Linked DNA regions of Homo sapiens. The protein of the gene in region 2 purifies or fractionates together with the protein of the main gene of each other region. This does not show direct contact. Each region holds a gene or a part of one and is shown on either strand. Other genes may lie near its edges.

Evidence for each region. Proteins that work in one complex are often made in the same cells at the same time.
Region 1: the proteins of SUDS3 (region 2) and BCL11A purify together in Homo sapiens (affinity purification with mass spectrometry, with the first as the bait; one large-scale study listed by BioGRID). This does not show direct contact.

The regions. Positions count from the first base shown.
Region 1 is NC_000002.12:60,459,655-60,463,154, reverse strand, and holds part of BCL11A (BCL11 transcription factor A), read left to right. Parts: intron 1-730; coding exon 731-2,751; 3' UTR 2,752-3,500. UniProt on the Homo sapiens protein: Transcription factor. Associated with the BAF SWI/SNF chromatin remodeling complex. Binds to the 5'-TGACCA-3' sequence motif in regulatory regions of target genes, including a distal promoter of the HBG1 hemoglobin subunit gamma-1 gene.
Region 2 is NC_000012.12:118,407,555-118,411,054, reverse strand, and holds part of SUDS3 (sin3 histone deacetylase corepressor complex component SDS3), read right to left. Parts: intron 1-3,500.

The DNA of each region.
Region 1 (3,500 bases), on a different chromosome or scaffold from region 2:
AAAATGGACGTCCCCATGGGGTGTTGTGGAACCAAAATTGGGACTCACTGATCCTCCCACAGTCTGGGGTGTGAGAATGTTGCTAGTCTTTTTTCCACGGAAGTATTTTATGAGTACCCTCTCATTTTAACAATATCAACAATTAGTGTGTTTCAGGCTAATGCTGAAAGCATCTTTAGGGCCATAGAACATTGTAGTGAGTTGACCTTCTTCCCCTTTTTTGATACCTCTATGAAATGTTTGCCTATTTAGAAAGTTCACCTGTCACCCAGGGGGGAATAGAAAGCTGGGATTTAGGAAGCCAAAAAGTTTCCTTGGGTCACCTTGTCCAAGTTTCTCACTTAACAAGGAGGAAACAGAGGCACATGGAGATGAGATGGCTTGCCCCAAACTACAGCTGATGGAACTGGAAAGTTTAGAAGACATTTGTTGAGGTGCCTAGAATGTAGGGACCTTCATCCTCAAGCCAGAACTGGTCAGGATTTTTCTGCTTTGGGGATTGGATATAAAATTTCTAGAACTGAGTTTAATGGCAGGAAGATCAATTGGACCAATATTTACTGGGTACCCATGCTCAGACGTGCCAGGCACAGGGGGTAGGTCAGTGAGGGCTTAGGCCTTGGGGTTGAGGGGTGGGGGCAGGGAAGGCTGGAGGTGGAACATAAATAAGCAATTGCTGATGCCCGCCTCAGTGATTAAACATTGATGTTGGTGTTGTATTATTTTGCAGGTAAAGATGAGCCCAGCAGCTACACATGTACAACTTGCAAACAGCCATTCACCAGTGCATGGTTTCTCTTGCAACACGCACAGAACACTCATGGATTAAGAATCTACTTAGAAAGCGAACACGGAAGTCCCCTGACCCCGCGGGTTGGTATCCCTTCAGGACTAGGTGCAGAATGTCCTTCCCAGCCACCTCTCCATGGGATTCATATTGCAGACAATAACCCCTTTAACCTGCTAAGAATACCAGGATCAGTATCGAGAGAGGCTTCCGGCCTGGCAGAAGGGCGCTTTCCACCCACTCCCCCCCTGTTTAGTCCACCACCGAGACATCACTTGGACCCCCACCGCATAGAGCGCCTGGGGGCGGAAGAGATGGCCCTGGCCACCCATCACCCGAGTGCCTTTGACAGGGTGCTGCGGTTGAATCCAATGGCTATGGAGCCTCCCGCCATGGATTTCTCTAGGAGACTTAGAGAGCTGGCAGGGAACACGTCTAGCCCACCGCTGTCCCCAGGCCGGCCCAGCCCTATGCAAAGGTTACTGCAACCATTCCAGCCAGGTAGCAAGCCGCCCTTCCTGGCGACGCCCCCCCTCCCTCCTCTGCAATCCGCCCCTCCTCCCTCCCAGCCCCCGGTCAAGTCCAAGTCATGCGAGTTCTGCGGCAAGACGTTCAAATTTCAGAGCAACCTGGTGGTGCACCGGCGCAGCCACACGGGCGAGAAGCCCTACAAGTGCAACCTGTGCGACCACGCGTGCACCCAGGCCAGCAAGCTGAAGCGCCACATGAAGACGCACATGCACAAATCGTCCCCCATGACGGTCAAGTCCGACGACGGTCTCTCCACCGCCAGCTCCCCGGAACCCGGCACCAGCGACTTGGTGGGCAGCGCCAGCAGCGCGCTCAAGTCCGTGGTGGCCAAGTTCAAGAGCGAGAACGACCCCAACCTGATCCCGGAGAACGGGGACGAGGAGGAAGAGGAGGACGACGAGGAAGAGGAAGAAGAGGAGGAAGAGGAGGAGGAGGAGCTGACGGAGAGCGAGAGGGTGGACTACGGCTTCGGGCTGAGCCTGGAGGCGGCGCGCCACCACGAGAACAGCTCGCGGGGCGCGGTCGTGGGCGTGGGCGACGAGAGCCGCGCCCTGCCCGACGTCATGCAGGGCATGGTGCTCAGCTCCATGCAGCACTTCAGCGAGGCCTTCCACCAGGTCCTGGGCGAGAAGCATAAGCGCGGCCACCTGGCCGAGGCCGAGGGCCACAGGGACACTTGCGACGAAGACTCGGTGGCCGGCGAGTCGGACCGCATAGACGATGGCACTGTTAATGGCCGCGGCTGCTCCCCGGGCGAGTCGGCCTCGGGGGGCCTGTCCAAAAAGCTGCTGCTGGGCAGCCCCAGCTCGCTGAGCCCCTTCTCTAAGCGCATCAAGCTCGAGAAGGAGTTCGACCTGCCCCCGGCCGCGATGCCCAACACGGAGAACGTGTACTCGCAGTGGCTCGCCGGCTACGCGGCCTCCAGGCAGCTCAAAGATCCCTTCCTTAGCTTCGGAGACTCCAGACAATCGCCTTTTGCCTCCTCGTCGGAGCACTCCTCGGAGAACGGGAGTTTGCGCTTCTCCACACCGCCCGGGGAGCTGGACGGAGGGATCTCGGGGCGCAGCGGCACGGGAAGTGGAGGGAGCACGCCCCATATTAGTGGTCCGGGCCCGGGCAGGCCCAGCTCAAAAGAGGGCAGACGCAGCGACACTTGTGAGTACTGTGGGAAAGTCTTCAAGAACTGTAGCAATCTCACTGTCCACAGGAGAAGCCACACGGGCGAAAGGCCTTATAAATGCGAGCTGTGCAACTATGCCTGTGCCCAGAGTAGCAAGCTCACCAGGCACATGAAAACGCATGGCCAGGTGGGGAAGGACGTTTACAAATGTGAAATTTGTAAGATGCCTTTTAGCGTGTACAGTACCCTGGAGAAACACATGAAAAAATGGCACAGTGATCGAGTGTTGAATAATGATATAAAAACTGAATAGAGGTATATTAATACCCCTCCCTCACTCCCACCTGACACCCCCTTTTTCACCACTCCCCTTCCCCATCGCCCTCCAGCCCCACTCCCTGTAGGATTTTTTTCTAGTCCCATGTGATTTAAACAAACAAACAAACAAACAGAAGTAACGAAGCTAAGAATATGAGAGTGCTTGTCACCAGCACACCTGTTTTTTTTCTTTTTCTTTTTCTTTTTTCTTTTTCCTTTTTTTTTTTTTTCCTTTATGTTCTCACCGTTTGAATGCATGATCTGTATGGGGCAATACTATTGCATTTTACGCAAACTTTGAGCCTTTCTCTTGTGCAATAATTTACATGTTGTGTATGTTTTTTTTTAAACTTAGACAGCATGTATGGTATGTTATGGCTATTTTAAATTGTCCCTAATTCGTTGCTGAGCAAACATGTTGCTGTTTCCAGTTCCGTTCTGAGAGAAAAAGAGAGAGAGAGAGAAAAAGACCATGCTGCATACATTCTGTAATACATATCATGTACAGTTTTATTTTATAACGTGAGGAGGAAAAACAGTCTTTGGATTAACCCTCTATAGACAGAATAGATAGCACTGAAAAAAAATCTCTATGAGCTAAATGTCTGTCTCTAAAGGGTTAAATGTATCAATTGGAAAGGAAGAAAAAAGGCCTTGAATTGACAAATTAACAGAAAAACAGAACAAGTTTATTCTATCATTTGGTTTTAAAATATGAGTGCCTTGGATCTATTAAAACCACAT
Region 2 (3,500 bases):
ACATTTTTAAAAAGGGAGGGACAGAGACAGGAAGTAAAAACCAAACAAAACAAAAACACCATCACAACAAAAATTATAATTAAAGAAGTCTTAATAATTCACATTTGAGGAATAGCCTGGATTTCCCATTTAGCTTAATTTAAAGGCTTCCATCCTGAGGCCAGGCGCGGTGGCTCAAGCCTGTAATCCCAGCACTTTGGGAGGCCGAGGCAGGCGGATCACAAGGTCAGGAGATCAAGACCATCCTGGCTAACACGGTAAAACCCCGTCTCTACTAAAAATACAAAAAAAGTAGCCGGGCATGGTGGCAGGTGCCTATAGTCCCAGCTACTTGGGAGGCTGAGGCAGGAGAATGGTGTGAACCCGGGAGGCGGAGCTTGCAGTGAGCCGAGATGGCGCCACTGCACTCCAGCCTGGGCGACAGAGCAAGACTCCATCTCAAAAAATAAATAAATAAATAAATAAATAAATAAAATAAATAAATAAATAAATAAATAAAGGCTTCCATCCTTAGGTTAGAAGACCACCTAATCTTCTTTGGGATCTAAAGCTTATATTCCTTGGTCCCTCTACAGAAGGGAAAAGGCTGAGGAAAGTGTTGGAAAACTATGTATTTTTCCCTTTTTTTGGACTATATGACCCAGTTCAAAAAGTAAATTAAAAATTGTTAAATAAAAACTCTGTTTCCCCTTTCTGACCCCACACCAGAACACTGAAGAAGGTTGGACAGACAAAATATACAGGCATAAGCCACCGTTATTTATTTTCTATTTGTCCAAGTCAGTCACCAACAAGAAGGAAGGCTGACTTTAACCCTTTAGTCAGTCATTCAAAAATACTCATTAAGCACTTACTGTGTACCACGGACTATGCTGGAGGCTGGGGACAAACAGTGAGAAAGGCCACAAGTTCTCCACTATCACAGAGATTCAAATACACTGGGGATAAGGAACATTAAATAACCACACCTGGTAACAGCTAATCAGGCAAAGTTCCAAGTGCCATGACGTATACCAAAGGGTATCTAATTTGGCCTGGACAGTTGGGAAAGCTGCTTTGAATACAGTAGATAAGACAGACACTCCCCTTTCAACTCCTGCATCTACTCTCAACCTGTAGTGTAGGGCCACTTCTTATTTCTACAAGTTCAGAGACAAGGCCAAGGATGAAAGTGAAGTTGCTGGGGGCCAAAGCCCAAATGGGACAAAAGCAGCTGCCACAGGATGAAGGAGCCCCTGCTGGATTACAAGAGTTGGAAGTATCAGCGGAGCTGCAGCTAGCAACCCTGGCCTGGGCCAGCCCCACGTCGATTAATAACATAAACTTTGGTTCATTTTGGCTGCAAAGATCTGGCTAACCAGACCCATAAACTCGTGTAAATTTAGTAAAACACATCTCCCAGCAAAGCATGATGGCTTATTCTGTTTTGCTGGTATAAGGAAATAACCTATTGCCAAGACATGGCAAGTAAAGGATGCACTTCACTCCCATAATGAGCTTTTTCCAGTCTAGGGTCTCAATTCTCTTTAACCTGCTACTTATGAACTGAAAACTCAGGTTTCCAAGTCAATGTACTTTCTGAAAATACTGTTAAAAGAAACAGAATTTTAGGCCGGGCGTGGTGGCTCACGCCTGTAATCCCAGCACTTTGGGAGGCCAAGGTGGGCAGATCACAAGGTCAGGAGATCGAGACCAGCCTGGCCAACATGGTGAAACCCCATCTCTACTAAAAACACAAAAATTAGCCGGGAGTGGTGGCAGGCTCCTGTAATCCCAGCTACTCGGGAGGCTGAGGCAGGAGAATTGCTTGACCCCGGAGGCGGAGCTTGCAGCAAGCCAAGATCATGCCACTGCACTCCAGCCTGAGCAACAGAGCGAGACTCTATCTTAAAAAAAAAAAAAAAAGAATTTTAAATTCAATTAGAACAGCGAGAATGGTTTAAATGCAAGTTTTAAAGTTGCTTTTGGCCCTTTATTAGTTGGTAAACTGGCAGGGGACCTTCATTATGCTAAATATGTATTATCACAAGGGCCGAACTGTACAATGCATAAGAAAAGGCTAAGTTCATACTAACACTAACACTTCCCCTTGTTTCTCTCTCACATCTGAGCCAGCTCTCCTATGTAAACAGTCATGTCTTGAGTAATGGTTAAAATAAAAATACAGAGGGAGAATACTCACAGTTGTTCTAAAGGGACTGTAAGTTATTAAAGAGATAAAGACACAAAACAAAATGCAACTACCCTCAAGTCATTCTGATACAACTTTCTAAACACTTTAATAAAGAAAGGTCATGGATGTGGTGTAGAATATTACGAGTGTGGAAACATGCTCCATATACTGGTAGGTAAAAAAAAAAAAACCAAAAAAAACTATGTCAACTATGTTCCTGTGTTTATGATAAAACATACACATGTTACAGCTGGGTGCAGTGGCTCACGCCTGTAATCCCAGCACTGCGGGAGGCCGAGGTGGGTGGATCACTTGAGGTCAGGAGTTCAAGACCAGCCCGACCAACATGGTGAAACCCCCATCTCTACTAAAATTACAAAAATTAGCCAGCATGGTGGTGTGCGCTTGTAATCCCAGGTACTCGGGAGGCTGAAGCACAAGAATTGCTTGAACCCAGGAGGCAGGGACTGCAGTGGGCTGAGATCATGCCACTGCACTCCAGCCTGGCTGGAAGAACGAGACTCTGTCTCAAAAAAAAAAAAAAAACTGGCCAGGTATGGTGGCTCATGCTTGTAATCCTAGCACTTTGGGAGGCCAAGGTGGGTGGATTGCCTGAGCTCAGGGGTTCGAGACCAGCCTGGGCAACAAGGTGAAACCCCGTCTCTACTAAAATACAAAAAATTGGCCAGGCGTAGTGGCTTACGCCTGTAATCCCAGCACTTTGGGAGGCCGAGGCGGGTATATCACGAGGTCAGGAGATAGAGGCCATCCTGGCGAACATGGTGAAACCCCGTCTGTACTAAAAATACAAAAATTAGCTGGGCGTGGTGGCGGGTGCCTGTAGTCCCAGCTACTTGGGAGGCTGAGGGAGAGAACAGCTTGAACTCGGGAGGCGGAGGTTGCAGTGAGCTGAGATGGCGCCACTGCACTCCAGCCTGGGTGACAGTGCGAGACTCTGTCTCAAAAAATATAAATAAATAAATAAAATACAAAAAATTAGCCAGGCATATTGGCGTGTGCCTGTAGTCCCAGCTACTCAGGAGGCTGAGGTAGGAGAATCGCTTGAACCTGGGAGGCGGAGTCTGCAGTGAGCCAAGATTGCGCCACTGCACTCCAGCCTGGGCGACAGAGCGAGACTCTGTCTCAAAAAAAAAAAAAAAACCAAAAATAACACATATACATGTTACATGTGTATCCATGTATCATATCCTCACAAAGGTCTTTTAAAGAAAACAGCTGACTCTGGAAGGCTATTCCAACAATTCTCATGAGATGCATTGTATTTTCCTTCAGTGGTACTTAGAACCCAAACCCAAGAAATTCAACT